Linked DNA regions of Homo sapiens: region 1 is linked to region 2. The links come from fine-mapping of genetic effects on gene expression. A gene starts in region 2. The other region holds a variant in brackets. All regions are shown on one strand. Distances are between the middles of the regions. Region 1 overlaps SHC4 (SHC adaptor protein 4). Region 2 holds the start of EID1 (EP300 interacting inhibitor of differentiation 1).

Region 1 (5,386 bases), 21 kb before region 2:
GCCTCTACTGAGTGCTGTTAGAATAAAAGAATGGAAAAACAATAATTTACAGCGTAAAGGGAGTCCCATAATTCTTATACTGACATAGGGAAAGACCCCTTTCTTATAATACCCAACTTCCTGTACCAAGAAACCGAACAAGACAAAGTTCAAAATATGTATAAACAATCCTTGCAAAAGATTACACTCTAATAAGCTTTGCACCATGCACAAGCTAATAACTGACCACGACCCCAAAGCCTCTTACATTTGTTTCCGGTTTGCTTTAGAGCAAGAGTCAGAGAACAACAGCCTGCAGGCCAAATCCCACCTGCTACCTGATTTCGATTTTGCCACCTTGTCAGCCAAGAATGGTTTTGACAATTTTTAAATGGTTGGAAAAAACACCCCAAAAGAATATTTTGTGACACATGAAAATCATATGGAATTCAAATTTCAGTGTCCATAAGTGTTACTGGCACACAAGCACATCCATTTGTTTATGGATTGCCTATGGCTGTTTTTCTAGCTACAACAGCAGAATTGAGTAGCTGTAACAGAAACTATATAACCTGCAAAGGCTAAAATATTTCCTACCTGGCCCTTTTCAGAAAAAGTTTGCCAACTGCTGCTAGAGTGATTCTCAACCTTAGCCTTGTTGGAAGCATTTGGAAGAGATCTTAAAACTTCTGACCCCCAAGCCCTGTCCGGCACCAATTAATTCAGAATCTCTGGAGCTGAGACCCAGTCTTCAGAACTTCGTAAAATTCTTGGTGGTGTAGTCCAATGTGCAGCCAAGGCTGAGAACCACTGCCTAGAGTGTTGAATGCATTTTAGGGGCAAATAGATTAGATCTTGCTGCCTCCAGGATGACCTTGCTGCCTCCAGATAAGAGAGAGAATGCAGGCCACTCTCTCACTGCTTGTGTGTGCAAAGGGTGATGTAAGCAAAGATGTTCAGGACCTCCATGTGCCCTCTGGTAAAAGCCCTTCTTCTTCTTCTTTTTTTCTTTTTTTTTTTTTGAGTTGGAATCTCACTCTGTAGCCCAGGCAGGAGTGCAGTAGCACGATCTCAGCTTACTGCAACCTCCACCTCCCAGGTTCAAGAGATTCTCCTGCCTCAGCCTCCCAAGTAGCTAGGACTACAGGTGCCCACCACCACTTCCGGCTACTTTTGTATTTTTAGTAGAGATGGGGTTTCACTATGTTGGCCAGGCTGGTCTTGAACTCCTGACCTCAGGTCATCCTCCCACCTAGCCCTTCCAAAGTGCTGGGATTACAGGTGTGAGCCACTGCGCCCAGCCATAAAGCCCTTCTTCTTTAGGAGATGAGAATGGGGGAGGCAGAGAGGAGAAGAGAGGATTATACCAAATATCTATCCCAGAATATAGAGTGACTACATTGAAAACAAAATTCCCCAGAACGGAATATCATCAAACGTATAGACAGTGTAACCTTCCCTAGCCTAGCCTCTAGGAAGAGGTGACCTCATTCCTTAACACGCACTAACACAACCATCTGGTCTAAGCTATAGAGCACAGAACCTGTTACTCAATGCAACGAGTCCAAGTAGGTTTAATCAGCTGTGTGGTTCATGAACTCTGTGTCAGAATCACTTGGAAGGTTTGTTAAGCTGTAGATTCCTAGGCCTCACCTCAGAATCAAAACCTCTAGGAACAGTCCTAGAAATCTGTATTTTAACCAGCACCCAGTTGATTCTTAAGAACTTTACAGTTTGATCACCACTTACCTAAATGGTGTACTCTCTGTGGATGTGCAAGCTGAAGTTGTCCTACTATTATTTGTCAAGGTGGATTAACTTGGTAGGCCAGTTGTTCGTTCCTTCCAGAGGTGCACACACATTTAAAAAAATGGAATTCCCAAAAAAATTTACAACATATTTGCCAAATAGCCTTTAAAAGAACCAGAGTTATTTAAAAAAAAAAACAGTGGTAGAAGTAATATATTCATTACACCAATTGCTGTCTTGCTCAGTAATATAGACACCTGTATGACAAACTGTTTTACTGTTTGTTTATTTATTTATTCATTTATTTATTTATTGAGACGGAGGGTTGCTCTGTCACCCAGGTTGTAGTGCAATGGCACAATCTTGGCTCACTGCAACCTCCACCTCCCGGTTCAAGCAATTCTCCTGCCTCAGCCTCCCTAATAGCTGGGATTACAGATGTGCACCACCATGCCCAGCTAATTTTTGTATTTTTACTAGAGATGGGGTTTCACGATGTTGGCCAGGCTGGTCTCAAACTCTTGACCTCAAGTGATCCGCCTACCTTGGCCTCCCAAAGTACAAAGATTACAGGTGTGAGCCACCACACCTGGCCAAACTGTTTTAAATATCTTTAAAATTCCAAGTATTCTCTGAAGAATTTTTGGAAGTAGATATACATTGCTTAGAGTGAGCTTGAGTGAATAAAGTGGGTGACTAAGTAAGACCTGTTTTCGGTTTTTTTTTTTTTTTTTTCTAAATGAGCTTTGGCTTTTAAGTGACCACATTATGCATCAGTGCACTCTTTAACTCCAAAAGACACACCTTCATAATATTTTGAATATTTTGTCAAAAACAAAGTTGTTTTAAAGAAGCCCAGTTTACCCTAAAGGAGAACAATCTTTTGAATTTATAAATTCCCATGTATTTTATATGAAACCAACTCTATTTCTTATTGTCATTTCTTTAACCACTTATAAAGCCTATAAGCCATCAGTTTGTGGGTGTAGGTGTTTGAATTTTGAGATACATGATTGTATTACAGGAAATCTCTGTGGGGACAGGAAAAAACCAGCACTTAATGTCCGTTAACTAGTGAGAGTTATAGGGGAGATGTGATACTCCAGACAAGAGGGTCCTTCACTTCATTCCAGTGTGATTAATGGGTTCACATTTGCATCAGAGCCAAAGGGCAGAATCACGAAGTAGACAGACAAACCCATTTCCTATGGTTGCTGAGCTGGGTTGGCTAGCAAA[T/C]GTACTTTAGAAACAGACTTTAAGTACAATTCAGGTGAACAGAGTGGGACACTAAGTCAGTGTGGGGATAAATGCTGTGGGCAGTACTCAAAGGTTTTATTTGACCATCCTGGGACCCGAGGTGCCTGTTTCTAAAGTGAAAGGATGTATTTTATGAGGCTGAGTTCACCCTCCTAGAGTACACGGGTGATGCCCCTTGATAATAGCACAAAGCAAGTCTGAGGCTTTCCATTTTCAACTGGTCTGTGGGCACTGACTGCGTTCATTGTGTGCTTATCGCCACAGAGGCAGGTTCCTGTTCTAAAGTGTCCTGTCTGAGGGCTTTCACAAATTCTTGGATGTCTTTAATTTCACTAAGCTGGACAAAATTGAACACATAGATCACTGAGCCTTGCTGTCCTGGAGGCAAAGATTTAAAAAAAGATGGTACTGGTTTCCCTAGAACAATGAGAACAGCATGATACCACATGGATGTGCAGTCTGAATTACTCAGTCTCTTCATTCATAATAAGAAGGCAATCCAAGACATTTAGGGTGCAACATGTCCCTTAGACTTTGTTAACTGATTTCTTTAAGGACTTACGTTGGAGATGCAAAGTGAAAGAAAGACCTTTGGGAAACGCAGGTGAATTTGTTTTGGCTGAGTATCGTTGACTTTTTATTTTGGAAAGGCTCTTGCTGTGATTAAAATTTTATTCTCATTCCTATTTGCAGGGACAAAACTGGAACTACTCCTTCACTGCATATGTGACTATAGATGTGTGTGTGTGTGTGTGTGTGTGTGTGTCAGAAGGTGGGGGATGTGGGGATCATTGCCTTTAATCATTCCAGCTGGGCCCCTTTGCCTGGTTTCATGTTGCACATTTTCTGGCTTTCCTATTTACTGAAGAACTGCATCTTGACATTCACCAGAAAAAATCTGCCGCGCAGCCTCTCCTCCCATTAAATGCTCCCCTTTGTCTTGGATTGTGATATTGCCTTCCAAACTTAAAAAAAAAAAAAGTGTGTGCGTGTGTGTGTGTGTGTGTGTGTGTGGCGACATTGCTTCCAGAGGAGCTTAACTGTTTAAGGGTTAAAAACACAGAAGAATTATAACTTAAGTGTTGTAGTGGCCAGGAGTTGATGAAGAAAGGTGGCTTTGTTTGGATGATTAGTTTGGACTCTGTTAAGACAGACAAAATATCTTTTTTTGGTCTTATGGCGTAGGCAGGGTTTTATATGCTTAAAAGCAAATCTTCCACGGCATTCTCATTCTCTTACATCAGCCCACTTCTCCCCTTCTCTCTCATGTGGCGAAACAATAAACAAAGTGGCCACTGTTGGTGCTCTGGGGCGTTTCTCTTTCTTTCTAATACAGGCTCCCAGGATGGAAATCTTTAGCCACTGAAACCCCAAAATTTCTGCTCCTCTAAGAGCAGACACTTGCTGAATGTTTGCTAGCTGGAGAAAGTCTCACCGCCACTCAGCTCCAAAAAGGTTCTGCAGGAGCGCAGCTGCTTGGGCTGCAAGAATGGCGGGGACCCCCTGAGCCCCAGGAGAAATCGCTCTCAACTCTGTTTTCTTTTTCTTTCTCCTCGGCATTTGTAAAGTTGGCCCAAGGGTGTGGCTGAGACTCCAGAAAAGCACTGAAAGTACTATTTGTTCTTGAAAATGTTACAGTTAATGTCTTGGTCCCAGTAGCAGGGGAAGAAAAGATCTTTGTGAACAAAAGCAACAAAATGTAGGCATCTATCTGCCTGTCCTTGCTGGGATTTCAGGAGATTTGTTAACGCTGCTATCAGCAAGGCCAGCAGAATTTGAGAGGTTAATTTAAAGCAGTATTTCTTAACCTGGGATCTGTAATTTCTAAGAGGTCCACAGAATGTTTTGGGGAGCTTTGGGGTGAGGAGTGGACCTTCTTAAATGGAATAGAAAAGTTTGTACAGGCTGGGCGCGGTGGCTCATGTCTGTAATCCCAGCACTTTGAAAGGCCAGGCGGGCAGATCACCTGAGGTCAGGAGTTTGAGACCAGCCTGGCCAATGTGGCGAAATCCCATCTCTACTAAAAATACAAAAATTAGCCGGGCATGGTGGCAGGCACCTGTAATTCCAGCTACTTGGGAGGCTGAGGCAGGAGAATCGCTTGAACCCTAGAGGCGGAGGTTGCAGTGAGCTGAGATCATGCCATTGAACTCCAGCCTGGCCGACAGAGTGAGACTCCGTCTCAAAAAAAAAAAAAGAAAGAAAAGAAAGAGAGAGAGAGGGAGAGGGAGGGAGAGAGAGAGAGAGAGAGGGAGAGGGAGGGAGAGAGAGAGAAAGAGAGAGGGAGGGAGGGAGGGAGAGAGAGAGAAAGAAAGGAAGAAAGAAAGAAAGAAAAAGAAAGAAGGAAAGTTTGTACAAATAGGTCTTTTACTGGAGAGAGGCATGGCTCATCTTAGAGTCT
Region 2 (5,386 bases):
TCCCCAAAAGACAGGATGACCATAAAATAAATAAGGCTCTGAATTGTCCTGTTGCATTGGATATTCGTTCTTTACTGCTATAATGGAGCAGAAGCATTTGGAACATTTTTACTGATCATGATAAAACCTGCTGATACACTTATTTTGCTGAACCTAGCCTTCTGATGTAATCATTACTCTCCTAGAACTTCAGCATCTTAGTAAGGTAACCACGGCAACATACTCATTGATAGGGCAGGTTTTCCCAGACCAGCAAATTCTTATAGGCAAAAACTTAATTTACAAAGTTTAATTTCCAGAAATTAATTTGTGAATTAGATAGCTGAAGCTGGATCATTTTCCCTTAATACTGGTTAACACATACAATAGAAAGTAGTATACAGAGAAAGTATGTATGCAATACTATTAGCCAAACAAAATACACAGAACAAGAAATTTTATTATCTCCAATGCTGGTGCATGACAAATAACAAGCTTAATTAGAGGAGGAGACAGAGGGAAACTTCAGATACCAAGGTAATTTCTGGGCAGGTTTAAAACCTTTAAAAGTTGATAGAATAACTGTTCATAAAGTCTTTTTAGATATAGCGCTTTTTACTTGACAACTTTTATTAACAGTTCTTACAATATGAAGTTCAACTAAAGTCCTTCATCTGTCAAGTTAAAACAGCAAGCAAAACAAAATTTCTCTAGTATATAACAGCATAAGCAATGGTTTGTTTTCTTTGTACATTCACACACATTTAGTGTCTAGATTTGAAACTTTTTAATTAAGGATGTCTTAATTTTTGACTTTTAAAAATGGTTATGACAATGGATTTTCTTGATTTATAGATCACAGTGGCTTTATAAATGATCAAGATACATGTACAAACAAAATTTCAGATGCTCTTGGAAACACATCTTAAGATACAAAGCACACGTGATACATATTTGAGTTTACTCATCCATTTATCTTACACTGAAAATGTAGCCTTTGATAACTGTGGCTTGACTAGATCACAAAATAGAATTTTCCAAGTTTTCTTAAGCTTTCAGTCCAAATAACTCAAAAGATATGTGTCCTAGTTGGATACATTTTTTTCTCATTATATAATTAGTATCAGTGGGCTTTTGTATTGGCAGTTTGTCTTGGTCATGACTTATTCTTGCAAAACCATCTTTACAGCAAACAAATATGAAAGATATTTTCCCCAATGCAAGGAAAATAATCTGGATCAATAACAAAGTCAAAGCCATAGGTGTTTTAGGACGTTCTTGATAATTGATTTCAACGGTCTTAAAATCTTTTTTCTTTTTCTTTAATGATTCTCTTCCTTTTTCACAACTGTGCAGTCACTGTCCTATTGTGTTCTATTCTGAAAAACAAATTTTTTTGAAGGTCAAGTTTTTCAATGGCACAAAACTATTTGGAATGAACCCAAAAGATAGCGGAAAGTTGGGTCCCTCCTCAAGTAGTTTCCTCCTCTTTTAACAGCATCTAACTACTCTCTATCAATAATCTCATCACAGCCGAGTTCTTCGGTCAGACGATTGACAACCATCAGTGAAAAAAGCTCTTCGATAAAAGCTAACTGATCAAACGGGGTCTTCTCATAATGCATCTGAAACCCGCCATCCAGGGCTGGTTCTCTTGTTCTCAGAAACATCTTGTCGGCTTCTTCAAGAGCGGCTGATACTCTGTAGCCGGCACCACTGAGCTGCTCCTCTTCGGGATAGTCGTAGTCGTCCTCCCAGTCATCAAATTCCTCGCCCTCGTCCTCGCTCTCGAAGTCTGCGCCCGCCACCTGGCCTGGCTGCTCCCCAGCGTTGGGCCCGTTAGCAAGGCTCCGTTTCCCCTCTGGCGCCGCCATTGGCTGGGCCTCCTCCTCCTCCATTGGGCCTTCCTCCTCGAGCTGTTGGGCCCCGCTGCGGGAGGGACGCAGGGATAGCTCCCGGCTCCCGCTGCCTACCTCCATCTGCGGAAGGTCACCCTCGCCAGGCATCACATCCATCTGCAGGTCACTGCTCTCTTCATACAGCTCGGACAACTCAGCCATTTCCGACATTGTGCAAACCGCTCAACCTCTAGGAAAAAGCTTCCAGCAAGACAGATGCTGCGCGGCCGTGCGTTCGTGCGCGTGCGCAAAGGCTGCGCGCTTGCGTAACCCCGCGCGCAGGCGTGGTCCTCAGGTACCGCCTCCTACTTGGCGCGCCACTGTGGTTGGAGTAGCTCAGTGTTTTCTCCGGGGTGTTGGCGTCGCCTTTTGAGCTACGTTTCCATCGATTCGAACTTCGTATCTAGGGACCCTGCATGCAAGAGCGTAACAGTTTCTGTGTTACTTAACCCTACTGCTGCTTGTAATGCTGCAAACCGGAAAATAACCTTACATGGCCTTCGTAACATTTAATGCTCCTTCCCCCCCTTCCTCTTCCCCTGGGCAATTTACCGATGTACTGATGACTTGTAAATCCACGTCTCCAAACCAGACAACATCCATAACCACAGATCAGCATATTAAGAACTAATCCATTTTGTCCTTTTAGTGTTTTCATTTAAAAAGTTAAATTCACAAACAACAGATATATTGTACTTTTTTTTTTTTTAGTTATAGTGAAGAAATACTTGGTCCCATTTCTTTTCGCCTGGGAGGTATCTTTCCACTATTAGCAATGCGGTGTGTATTCTTTGAATTCTTTTTATTTGCATTTACATGTATCTTTATGTATTGACAGCAAAATACTATTTTGTGTGTTTTTTAAAAACATGTTTTACCTGTTTTTACCTTCAACTTAAAAGCCTCAGGTTTTAAGTTGTATATACTTATATGAATTATATGACTGTGTATACTTACAGGATTCAAGCACATTTCATTTATTCTGCACTTTATTTCTATTATTATTACATTATAGTTATGTAGAATTATACAACTCACCATAATGTAGAATCAATGGGAGCCCTGAGCTTGTTTTCCTGCAACTAGATGGTCCCATCTGGGGGTGATGAGACACAGTGACACCCGAGGTGTGTTCCTTATGTCCGGTCTATTCTGTAATCTCATTTTGGTTGCTGTTACTGTGGAAAATCCTGCCTCACAAAGATAGGATGTTGAAAATGGAAGGAGGCTTTTCAGTACTTTTGTGGCAATCTCAGGATGTTCCGCCTTGACTTTAATCGAGAACGTATGGAGATTTGAAGTTGTCTCAAACATACTTTTAAGGCCACCGTCATTTGCAATATCAAGCAGTTGATCCTCTTCTAGCGTGGACAAAGTGGATTCACCTGGCTTATTCACAAATGGGTCACAGATCCATTCCGTCTTTTGTGGATGAGAAGTGTGATGGTTAATACTGAGTGTCAACTTGATTGGATTGAAGGATACAAGTATTGATCATTGGTGTGTCTGTGAGGGTGTTGCCAAAGGAGATTAACATTTGAGTCAGTGGGCTGCGAAAGGCAGACCCACCCTTAATCTGGTTGGGCACAATCTAATCAGCTGCCAGCTTGGCTAGAATATAAGCAGGCAGAAAAATGTGAAAAGAGAGACTGGCCTAGCCTCCCAGCCTAAATCTTTCTCCTGTGTTGGATGCTTCCTGCCCTCGAACATTGGATTCCCAAGTTCTTCAGTTTCAGAACTCGGACTGGCTCTCCTCTCTCCTTAGCCTGCAGACAGCCTATTGTAGGACCTTGTGATCATGTGAGTTAATACTTAGTGAACTCCCCTTTACATATATATACATATATATGTGTATATGTATGTGTGTATGTGTATATACGTGTGTGTGTGTGTGTATATATATATGTATATATTCCATTAGTTCTGTGCTTCTAGAGAACCATGACTAATACAGGAAGTAATGCTCAAAATATTTTGAAAGCTGAGATAGGTGATCATGCACCAGCTGGGAGAAAGAAGACCCTGGCTCAGTCTCTTTCAAAATCTCTGCTAATGTTTGAAATGTCAGAAATCCCAGTGTTCATTTGTCACCCGCATGATTCCAGTTTGGCTTTGAATGCAGCCACCTTATCTGCCAAGTTGAACACAGTTGTTGTTCGTCCCTGAAGTGACAGAGTTCACTGAGCAGGTTGAATATGTCACACAAGTAAGCAAGTTTTTTTGTGACCCATTCTGTGTCACTGAAATGTGCCGCCAATGGTGACTGTTTTTCTACAAAGAAATCTCTGAAGCAGCTCTCTTAACTCAAAAACTCTGGCCAGTGATCTACCTTTAGAAAGCCATCTCACTTCTGTGTGTAAGAGAAGACGTGTGTGCTCTGCATCCATCTCCTCACAGAGCTGCACAAACAGATGTGAGTTAAGGGCATGTATAATATGGTTGATAATTTTAATCACATACTGCAAAATGTTGTTAAGTTCAGGTGACATTTTCTGACTAGCCATCATTTCTCTATGGATGACATGGTGCATAGACTCACATTCAGAAGCGACCTCTTTGACCTGAGTAGTGAAACCAAAATGCCATCCAGTCATGGCAGCTGCTCCACCCATGCATATACCGATGCAAAATGACTGATTCCACTTTCCTGATATGTAATCATTCAAAGACTTGAATAGTTCTGCATCTGTGGTGCTGGTTGGCAACAAAAGTGCATATAGCATATCCTCATTCACATCCTCCTGCAAAATATATCACACACAAAAAAGCATTGTTCCTTTCTAACAATTGTGCCTCATTATCCTCTGATATTTCATCAGTTCATCTAGTTGTGGTGCTAGCCAAAAGAGGAACACATGCCACCTTTTGAACTGCAGCCTCTCCTGAAAGTTCATGACAAATGTCCTTAGAAGCAGGCAGGATCAACTCTTCATCAATAGTAAAGGACTTCTTAGCTTTAGCAATGTGGTTAGCCACTAAGAATGATGCTCTCAGTGCAAACACATCTGATGAAGTGGTGGCCTTCAATAATTTCTTCTATTCTTTGTGTTCACATTGTTTTCTTTTGAAAAACTCCAAAGGCTTAGTATTAATGCAGGGTGTGTGGTCTCCATGTGACAAAGCAGTTTAGAAGGCTTCATGGCTTTGTTAGATAGCCACTTGCTACATGTTATGCAAAGCAAGCTTGGATAATGTGAATCACCTGTTGTAATGAACTGGTATTTTAAGTAGGACTCTTGATATTTTCTTTTAAATGCAGCTTTATTTTTGTTGGCAGTCTTAAAGTCTTCTGCAGTCTCATCACTGGATCTTTCCCCCTTTTCAAAGAACCTCTCCAGTGAAGTTTGTTTTTTACTCATTTTGGCTAGGGTTAGCTTATGGGCTTACCAAAACTGTGACCGAGAAAGTGCATGGTGCAGGAAAGAGACATGGATGGGAGTGGTAAATAAAATAATGGGCGGGTCAGGAACAAACTAAAATAGTCGGATTCAGACTTAAAGCCTGCCATC

The links. PIP is the estimated chance that this variant, and not a neighbour inherited with it, causes the effect. A credible set is the group of variants that fine-mapping cannot tell apart.
Region 1: its variant is the best candidate, but not a certain one, in a credible set for the expression of EID1 in whole blood (TOPMed, PIP 0.70).

The regions. Positions count from the first base shown.
Region 1 is chr15:48,896,122-48,901,507 of GRCh38, reverse strand. All of the region lies in intron 2 of SHC4 (SHC adaptor protein 4), which reads left to right. Among named protein-coding and RNA genes, the nearest start is that of EID1, 21 kb to the right of the region's middle. The variant T/C (reference allele first, on the strand shown) is at 2,965.
Region 2 is chr15:48,874,839-48,880,224 of GRCh38, reverse strand. EID1 (EP300 interacting inhibitor of differentiation 1) reads right to left here and starts at 2,091. Exons shown (of 1, transcript NM_014335.3): 1 at 52-2,091. The coding sequence starts at 2,048. The coding sequence ends at 1,485. All of the region lies in intron 4 of SHC4 (SHC adaptor protein 4), which reads left to right. RefSeq lists enhancers at 1,837-2,136, 2,407-2,516.